Linked DNA regions of Homo sapiens: region 1 is linked to region 2. Evidence: fine-mapped expression QTL. A gene starts in region 2. The other region holds a variant in brackets. All regions are shown on one strand. Distances are between the middles of the regions. Region 1 has its middle 21 kb from the start of IL3. Region 2 holds the start of CDC42SE2 (CDC42 small effector 2).

Region 1 (5,382 bases), 780 kb before region 2:
GACTAATAGAACTCTCAGCACAAGCCAGAAGAGATTGGGGGGCAATATTCAACATTCTTAACAAAAAGAATTTCCAACCCAGAATTTCATATCCAGCCAAACTAAGCTTCATAAGTGAAGGAGAAATAAAATACTTTACAGACAAGCAAGGGAAGTCATTACTGTCAGACCTGCTTTACAAGAGCCCCTGAAGGAAGCACTAAATATGGAAAGTAAAGACCACTGCCAGCCACTACAAAAACACACTGAAGTACACAGATCACTGGCCCTATAAAGCAACCACATAAACAAGTCTGCAAAATAACCAGCTAATACCATGATGACAATATCAAATCCACACATATCAATACAACCTTAAATGTAAATGGGCTAAGTTCCCTAATTAAAAGACACAGAGTGGCAAGCTGGATAAAGAACCAAGACTCATTGGTATACCATCTTCAAGAGACCCATCTCACATGCAGTGACACACATAGGCTCAAAATAAAGGGATGGAGGAAAATCCTATCAAGCAAATGGAAAACAAAAAAGCAGGGGTTGCAGTCCTAGTTTCTGACAAAACAGACTTTAAACCAACAAAGATCAAAGAGGATAAAGAAAGGCATTACATAATGGTAAAGGGTTTGATTCAACAGGAAGATATAACTAGCCTAAGTACATATATGCACCCAGTACAAGAGCACTCAGATTCATAAAGCAAGTTCTTAGAGATCTTCAAAGAAATATAGACTCCCACATAATAATAGTGGGAGATTTTAACACCCCACTGACAATATTGGACAGATCATTCAAGACAGAAAATTAACAAAGATATTTAGGACCTGAACTTGGGACTGAATCAAGTGGACCTCATAGATATCTACACAACTCTCCACCCCGAAACAGTAGAAAATACATTCTTCTCATTGTCACATGGCACTTACTCTAAAATCAATCACATAATTGGAAGTAAAACACTCCTCAGCAAATGCAAAAGAACTGAAATAATAACAAACAGACTCTCAGACCACAGCACGATCAAATTAGAAACCAAGACTAAGAAATTCACTCAAAACCATATAATTACATGGAAATGGAATAACCTGCTCCTGAATGACTTTTGGATAAATAATGAAATTAAGGCAGAAATCAAGAAGTTCTTTGAAACAAAGACACATACCAGAATCTCTGTGACACAGCTAAAGCACTGTTAAGAGGAAAAAATGTCCTCATCAAAAAGTTAGAAGGATCTAAAGTTAATAACCTAACATCACAATTAAAAGAGTTAGAGAACCAAGAGCAAACAAATCTGAAAGCTAGCAGAAGACAAGAAATAACCCAAATCAGAGCTGAGCTGAAGGAGATAGAGACATGAAAAAAAACATTCAGAAGATCAACGAACCCAGGAGCTGGCTTTTGGAAAAAATTAATAAAATAGATAAACTGCTAGATAGACTAATAGGGAAGAAAATGGAGAAGATTCAAATAAACACAATCAGAAATGATAAAGAGGATATCACCACTGACTCCACAGAAATATAGACAACTATCCGAGAATATTATGAACACCTCTATGCACATAAGCTAGAAAATCTAGAAGAAATGGATAAATTCCTGGACACATGCACCCTCCCAAGACTGAACAAGGAAGAAATTGAATCCCTGAACAGATCAATACAAGTTCTGAAATTGAGGCAGTAATAAATAGCCGATCAACCAAAAAAAAGCCCAGGACCAGATAGATTCACAGTTAAATTCTACCAGATGTACAAAGAATATATGGTACTGTTCCTACTGAAACTATTCCAAAAAATCAAAATGGAGACTCCCCGCTAACTCATTCTATGAGGCCAGCATCATCCTGCTACCAAAACCTGGCAGAGACACAATAAAAAAAAGAAAATTTCAGGCCAGTATCCTTGATGAACATCAATACAAAAATCCTCAAAAAAAATACTGGTAAACAGAATCCAACAGCACATCAAAAAGCTAGTCCACCATGATCAAGTAGGCTTTATCCCTGGGATGCAAGTTTGGTTCAGCATATACAAATCAATAAATTTGATGCATCACATAAACAGAACTAAAGATAAAAACCACATGATTGTCTCAATAGATGCAGAAAATGCTTTATATAAAATTCAACATCCATTCATGCTAAAAACTCTCAATAAACTAGGTATCGAAGGAACATACCTCAAAATAATAAGAGCCATCTATGGCAAACCCACAGCCAACATCATACTGAATGGGCAAAATCTGGAAGCATTCCCCTTGAAAACTGGCACAAGACAAGGAGGCCCTCTCTCACCACTCCTATTCAACATAGTATTGGAAGTTCTGGCCAAGACAATCAGGCAATAGAAAGAAATAAAGTGCATTGAAATAGGAAGAGAGGAAGTCAAACTATTGCTGTTTGGAGGTGACATGATCCTATACCTAGAAAATCCCATCATCTCAGCCCCAAAGCTTCTTAAGCTGATAAGCAACTTCAGCAAAGTCTCAAGATACAAAATCAATGTGCAAAAATCACTAGCATTTTTATTCACCAACAACATTCAAGCCAAGAGCCAAATTATGAGCAAACTCCCATTCACAATTCCCACAAAAAGAATAAACTACCTAGGAACATAGCTAACTAGGGAGGTAAAAGATCTTGACAAGAACTACAAACCACTGCTGAAAAATCAGAGATGACACAAACAAATGAAAAAAAATTCCATACTCATGAATAGGAAGAATCAATTTTATTAAAATGGTCATACTGCCTAAAGCAATCTATAGATTCAATACTATTTCCATTAAACTACTGTTGACATTCTTCACAGAACTAGAAAAAAAAAATTTAAAATTTATATGGAACAAAAAAAAAAA[G/AG]AGTCTTAATAACCAAGGCAATTCTAAGCAAAAAGAACAAAGCTGGAGGTATCACACTACCTGACTCCAAACTATACTCCAGGGCTATGGTAACCAAAATAGTATGGCACTGGTACTAGGACAGACACGTAGACCAATGGAACAGAATCAAGAACCCAGAAATAAGACCACATGCCTACAACCATCTGATCTTTGACAAAGTCAACAAAAACAAGCAATGGGGAAAGCATTCCCTATTCAATGTATGGTGATGGGATAAGTGGCTAGCCACATGCAGAAGATTGAAACTGGACCCCTTTCTTACACCATATACAAAAATTACCTCAAGATGGATTAAAGACTTAAATGTAAAATCCCAAACTATAAAAACCCTGGGAGACAATGTTAGGCCATACCATTCAGGACATAGGCACAGACAAAGATTTCATGATGAAGATGCCAAAAGCAATTGCAACAAAAGCAAAAATGGACAAATGGGATCTAATTAAACTTAGCTTCAGCACAGCAAAAGAAACTATCAGCAGAGTCAACAGACAACCTACAGAATGGGAGAAAATTTTTGCCAACAAAGGTCTCATATCCAGCATTTATAAGGAACTTAACAAATTTACAAGAAAAAAAAAACCCCATAAAAAATGGTCAAAGGACATGAACTTTTCAAAAGAAGGCATACATGCAGCCAATAATCATATGAAAAAAAGCTCAGCATCACTGATAATTAGAGAAATGCAAATCAAATAAAAACCACAATGAGATACCATCTAACAACAGTCAGAATGACTACTATTAGAAAGTCAAAAAATCACAGATGCTGGTGAGGTTGTGGAGAAAAAGGAATGCTTATACATTATAGGTGGGAGTGTAAATTAGTTCAGCCATTGTGGAAGACAGAGTGGCAATTGCTCAAAGACCTAAAGACAGAAATACCATTTGACCCAGCAATCCCATTACTGGATATATACCCAAAGGAATATAAATCATATTATAAAGACATATGCATGCGTATGTTCATTGCAGCATTTTTCACAATAGCAAAGACAAGGAATCAACATAAATGTCCATCAATGAGAGACTGGATAAAGAATATGTGGTACATATACACCATTGAATACTATGCAGCCATAAAAAAGAACAAGATCATGTCTTTTGCAGGGACATGGCTAGAGCTGGAGGCCATTATCCTTAGCAAGCTAACACAGGAACAGAAAACCAAATATCACGTGGTCTTATTTAGAAGTGGGAGCTAAATGATAACACATGGACACAAAGAGGGGAACACATTGCAGCCTTTCGGAGAGTGGAGGGTGAAAGGAGGGAGAGGATCAGCAAAAAGCACTAATGAATACTAGGCTTAATACCTGGGTGATGACATAATCTGTACAACAAACCCCCATGACACAAGTTTACCTATGTAACAAACCTGCACTTGTATCCCAGAATTTAAAATGAAAGTTAAAAAAATAGGTACTGATTTTGTTTTGTTTAGGAATTCCTTCTCTACCTTGAGATGATGATATTTTCTTGTATAGTATCTTAAAAACTCTATAGTCTTTTCTTTCACATCTATGTCTTTAATTGACCTGGAATTGCATGAGGCAGGGCTCTGGTTTAGCTGTTTCCATATTAATACTCATTTGTTCCAGCATATTTTTTGCAAAGACTTCTTTTCCTGCTGATTTGCATTGCTGACTCTTATATTTCACGGGTTCATAGATACGTGGGTGTGGGTCTTTCTCTGGGTTTTCTATTATGTTCCATTGCTCTATTTGTCTCTCCTTAAACTAATATCACATTGTCTTAAATATTCTAACTTTATAATACATCTTGGTATCTACAAGAGCAAGTTCTCCCACCTTGTTCTTTTTCTTTAAGAATGTCTTGGCTATTCTTTATCCATATTCATTTTAAACTAGCTTGTCAACTTTTCCCACCACACCCCAAAATGCTGGGACTTTGAGATTGCACTGATTCTATAAATCAATTTCAGTAGAATGACATCTTTACAATATTGAGACTTCTAGTTAACAAACACAGTATTTTCACTTTGTGTGTTTGTGTGTGTGTGTGTGTCTCCCAATAAAGTTTAAAATTTTCTTAATAGAGAACTTTTGTTATATTTATTCCTAGGAACTTGGCATTTTGGCATTATATTAAAAAAGGCAACTTCTTTTAAAATATCATGTTAATAAATGTCTTTTTCTGGTATAAAGAAATGCAATTGATTTTTATGGACTGATTTTGTATCCAGCAAACTTGCTAAACTCTCTTATCAATACTAAAATCTTATCTATAGATCCTTTTGAATTTTCTACATATACAAATGCATCACCTATGAGTAGTGACAGATTTTCTTCTATTTTTCTTAGTTTTCTATCTTTTATTTATTTTTCTTTCCTTACTACACAGACTGGGATATCTTGTAGAATGCTGAATAAAAGTAATAACATCAGGCATCCTTGTTATAGATCTCAAAGGGAAAGATTTCATCATTTTACCATTAAGCATGATGTTTCCTCTAAGTGTATTGCA
Region 2 (5,382 bases):
ACTTTCCTTATTTTTTCTAGAAACAACAATAAAAAGCTAACAGCACACTTTGGGAGGCCGAGGCGGGCAGATCACTTGAGACCAGGAGTTCGAGACCAGCCTGGCCAACACAGAGAAACCCCGTCTCTTTTTGAAAATACAAAAAATAGGGCATAGTGGCGCATGTCTGTAATCCCAGCTACATGGGAGGCTGAGGCATGAGAATAGCTCGAGCCCCAAAGGCGGAGGTTGCAGTAAGCCGAGATCACACCGCTGCACTCTAGCCTGGGTGACAGAGCGAGACTTCGTCTCGAAAAAAAAAAAAAAAAGAAAAAAAAAAGCTAATAGCCGGTAAGTCCAAAATCTGAAACTTCTATTTGAATGTAAACATTATCTTTAACAATGTATTAAGTATTATAAGCATTAACAGTCAAAACAGCCCACTTAAATACAAAAAAGCTAACTATAAAAAAATTAATATCTACATTATTTCATAATAATCAAGACAGACTTTGGATCACATTAGTCTGGATTCCTGAAATAAATAAAATATTACTGCTTTTTAAACATATATAAATAGATTAAAATAGGCAACGCAACCTTATGTTCAGAATAAATGCAAAACTACAAATCTCATCCTTTTAAATTAGTAGTTTTATCACAGTTGCAATACTAAAAGATAAGTCCACATATGGAACCACAAATTATTACTAATAATCCTTCCCTTTTTAGCACTATCAAGTTTATATGCATTTATTTGTAAGTGGTGAACACAAGGACAAAATAAAATTCCTGAAATGAAGCTTTATTTTAAAACATTTCTTATAGAAAAGGAATCTACTGTTTATCTCTGGGGATTTTTAAAAACAGAAAATGTTATTACAAAGATTATTTACAGAAAACAGGACCAGAAGTACATTACCCTTCAATACACTGTACCAAAGTCTCCTAATAGGGACCAGGGAGATAATAAAAACACTAGCTTATTAAATGTCTTCCTCCCTTCATTTTAAAATGTAGACAGATTCTATTAAACTGACAATATAAAAGCTTAACCCAATAATTTTAGCTGTACAAAGTTACTTATTAACCTTTAAAGGCTGTTATGAATTTACACTTCCTGCAGTTCACCTGCCATCTTTCCCAACTGAAATAGCCACTAGGGGTTTAAGACAGTCACCACTTGCGACATCAATAATAAGGAAATAACTTTGCATTCAAGTTTAAGAAAAGGATAATTGCGGATTTTGCCTGTGCCCATAAACAGGTGCTTAATGAATATCTGTTGAGTAAATGGTGACATTTTATTATATTAGTGCAACATTAGCTTTTCCCCCCCTAAATTTAGAGTTCTCCCTTGCTCAAAAAGCAGCAAGACCATACCACAGTCCCTTCTCAAAAACACATAAACTCCTTTATTCATAATGAAACAGAAAGCTGGGTTTCAAAATACAATCCCACTCCCTCTTTATCTTCTCCATTATTTTTAAAGATTAGAAATAAGGCCTGTTTTTAAGAAACAGAAAATGTATACCAACTTCTCTCAAACCAAAAGAGAAAATCCAAATTTGATATATATTTTCTATGTTCATAATATTGAGAGTAAGAACGGACTGTTCATCAACAGTATGTTATGTGGGACAAAAACTAAAAAACGTATATCAAAAATACATACTGTTTGCCGACATTCTTTCCTTAATCATAATCAAGGAGTATGTGCCTAAATTTTACTAGATGTGAGATAAGCTTTGTCTGATATTTCAAGATTCATTCATTCAACAAATACTTTACTGAGCACGTACTATAAGCCAGGCCCTTCAACGAAACATTTAGATTTTGTAAACTGCACATCACCCCCCAAAATTCCCCTAAAAAAGCTTATCATTTAAAATAATTGCAAGCTAAAGAGGAATCCCCAATGTTGTTTCTTACACATAGTGAAGTCAGCGGATCGGGGCGCTTTTTCAGCTGTTAATGCGGCATCAAGGAGCCGCTACCTACCACACCCGTTGCCTAAAATCGCAACTTAAAGCTGCAAGCACTGGGTAAAACAACCTGTAAGAGTAGCTCAGCTCCCGCGACGAGGTAGCCAAGGGCTTTCAAGCCCGGGGCCCGGGGCGAACCGCGGCAGGACCCGCGGACTGAACGCGTCGGGCGCCTCAGGCGAAGAGTCGGAGCTCCGGAGCCAGGTGTCTTTGCTCCCCGAAACCCTCACCTAGAGACCCCGGGCCCTCCCCGCCCGCCCCTCGCACCACCCTCCCGACTTCCAGACGTGAAAAGTTGGGGGGAGGGGGGGGGTCTGCCTTTCCATTTTACATCAGGCGGTCAGTTGGCTGCCTCAGCTGTCCGCCTGCCGTGAATTCTGAACTGAGCGTGTAACCATTCCTCAGAGGAAACAGAAGAAAAACCAAAGGCAGGGTCCTAGGGCATGAGGACCTCGCCCAAACCTGAAATGGAAGACGCAGGCTCAGCCCACAGCCCGCAGCGCGCGGCTGGCAAGGCCGGGCCGCGCTCACCCCAGAGCCCTCAGGGACGAGGGTTCGGGGCTTCGGGACCCCGCCCAAGGGACCGAGAGGGCGAGGCGTGGCGGCCGACGCGCGACTGGGGCTGGCATTGCACTCACCGTCGCCTTTGTCTCAGCCGCCCGCTCCGGCCGCAGCCCCTCTCAGCGCCGGCTCCGCGGCTCCTGCCGCCCCAACGCCTGCAGCTGCGCTCCCCAGCGCGCTCGCAGCTTCCTGGCTCCCCCTCCCCGCCCAGGCTCGCGCGCGGGTTGGGCGGAGCGAGAGGCGGCGCGCGCCCCTAGAGCGGCCGGAGGGGCGGGCGCCGTTGCGCAGCTGCAGCGACCGCAGTGCTGGCCCCGCCCCCCGCCAGGCCCCGCCCCCGCCGTACCTCCGGCATGGGCGAATCGGCCGGCAGGCGATGGGACCCCCGGGATTCGAGCCGCGCGGGTTAGGAATTGGCCTCTGTAGCTAACGGACGCCTGAGATCCGGGACTGCAGCACTCGCGGGAAAGGACGCTCCGAAAGATGGCGACCAAACCTGGGCGGGAGCGTGGGGGAGCCCCTTCCCACCCCGGCCCGGGCCGCGGACATCCGTGCGGAGGAGCGACGTCTGCGCACGTTGTGGGGCGGTGGACGCGCACAGGCGAGGGTGGGTGGGTGGGTGCTGAGCGGTTGTGGGATGAGGGGTCTCTCAGTAGCGGTTGAGAGCCCATCCTCTGACCACTGCTTTTTCATGTAAAAGTCAGAATCGTTCAATCAGTCATTAACTGGTTTAAGGCTGGCTAAACCACCTGGTTTGAAATGCGTGAAAATTACACATGTACTAGACTTCTGTGATTCCTTTGGGTGTGTATTTTACATATCTCAGAAATCAGAAACATGAGTGCCCTATCTAGCAGCCAGCAGTCCACCAAAATGCCTACAAAACTTTATCGTAAGTTCAAAAGGATAGCGTAATGCCACTGAAGTAAGCTCTCGAACCTGTAAGTAATGTATGGTCTTCCCCATTCTAGGTTGATGGCGAGGATTTCTAGTTACTCAGGCCAAAAACTTTATATCATCCATAACTCCTCTCATACTCTCATTTTCACTTTCAATCTGTCAAGAAAGCTTGTTGGTTGTACCTTCAAAATAGAACAGAGTGGGCAACATAGCGAGACCCTGTCTCTACAAAAAAAAAAAAAAAAAATTACCCTGGTGTGTTGGCGTGTACCTATAGTTCCAGGTACTCTGGAGGCTGAGGCCAGGAGTTACGTTACAGTGAGCCATCATCAGGCCACTGCACTCCAGCTTGGGCTGGACAGAGTGACACGTGTTCCAAAAAAAAAAAAAATTCTCCATCTTTCCTACCTTACTATTTTTCCTTTCATCCCATGACACTTCCCACCTTGTAACAATCTTTATAATTCAGAGTCAGCCCTCCGCATCCATGGCTTCTGCGTTTCTGGATTCAACCAACCACAGATGGAAAATATTTGGGAAAAAAAACACAACAATTTAAAAATACAAATAAAAACCAATACAATATAACAGCTATTTACATAGCACTTACATTGTATTATAAGTAATCTATAGATAATTTATACAGGAGGATATATGTGGGTTATGTGCAAATACTATATCATTTTATATTAGAGACCTGAGAGGATTTTGGTACTGGTCGTGGTCCTAGAGCCAATCCCCCTCGGATACTGAGGTATGCCTGTATTTATCTGATATGTTTAGCTTTTAGTGTCTGCCTTCCCTAGTAGAAGCTGGGATTTTTGTCTGTTTTGTTCAACTGATGTATCCCAAGTCCCTAGAATAAATGAAAAATTTAAAAATTCCCTGAGATTAAAAAAAACTAAAGCAACAAAAAATGACCAATTTTTTTTATTTTAAATTTTCTCTTGGTTTCTGTTTCAGTTAACCATAAGATCTTTATCTACATCATACCATAAGCATTTTGATTTTCCAGTTACTGTGAGTACAGTGATGACCATTTACTTGACTTTTAATGCAGTTTTTTGACCAATGATACGCTACAATCCTATTTCACTGAATGAGAATAACATGATAGAGTAGAGGAAGGTTACATAAAGACTATTAATTCTAAAAATTTCCTAGAACAAAAAAAAAAAACCAGAAAATTCCCGAACTTGATATATGTGCTTGTAAGCCTCCCTTTGAATTACAAATGTAGTAACCTTGTGTGAATGCCTTAAGTAGTAAATTTTCTATCATTTACCTATAAAGGGTAGTATTCATTATGTAAACATTTATTTTCAGATTTTTCATATTTTGTAACAAAACATTACGTGATTGAATACCATGATCTAATTTCAGTTGCTATAGCTATTCATGCACCCTTCTCATCAGTTAAAAAAAAAAAAAAAGTCAATTAAGGACACAATGCCATTCAGTTGAATGACACTTTTTTTTTTTTTTTTTGAGACAGGGTCTCACTTTGTCACCCAGGCTGGAGTGCAGTGGCCTAATCTGTGCTATCTCGGCTCTCTGCAACCTCTGTCTTCCGGGCTCAAGTGATCCTCCCACCTCAGCCTCCCAAGGAGCTAGGACTACAAACGCACACTACTACACCTAGCTAATTTTTGTGTTTTTGGTAGACAGGGTCTCACTATGTTGCCCAGGCTGGTCTGAAACTCCCAGGCTCACACAATCCGCCCTCCTCGCCTCACAAAGTGCTGGGATTACAGGTGTAAGCCACGGTGTCTGGTCTGGATGATACTTTTTGTAGAGTATGTGTGCATAATTATTTGCTCAATGTTATATTCATAGCAGTCTCTTTACACATTTAATTTATCCTTTATGATTTAAAACAATTTAAAGCTACAGATTACATGTTACAATTTGATTTTTTATAAAATTAAATAGACTTTTGTTTATAAAAAAATTGACAATG

Evidence for each region. PIP is the estimated chance that this variant, and not a neighbour inherited with it, causes the effect.
Region 1: its variant is the best candidate, but not a certain one, in a credible set for the expression of CDC42SE2 in whole blood (INTERVAL, PIP 0.63).

The regions. Positions count from the first base shown.
Region 1 is chr5:132,036,661-132,042,042 of GRCh38, reverse strand. No RefSeq gene overlaps it. Among named protein-coding and RNA genes, the nearest start is that of IL3, 21 kb to the left of the region's middle. The variant G/AG (reference allele first, on the strand shown) is at 2,854.
Region 2 is chr5:131,261,387-131,266,768 of GRCh38, reverse strand. It overlaps CDC42SE2 (CDC42 small effector 2), which reads right to left and starts at 2,716. Exons shown (of 5, transcript NM_001375635.1): 1 at 2,603-2,716. RefSeq lists enhancers at 1,437-2,254, 3,383-3,432 and silencers at 2,453-3,102, 3,133-3,182, 3,193-3,262.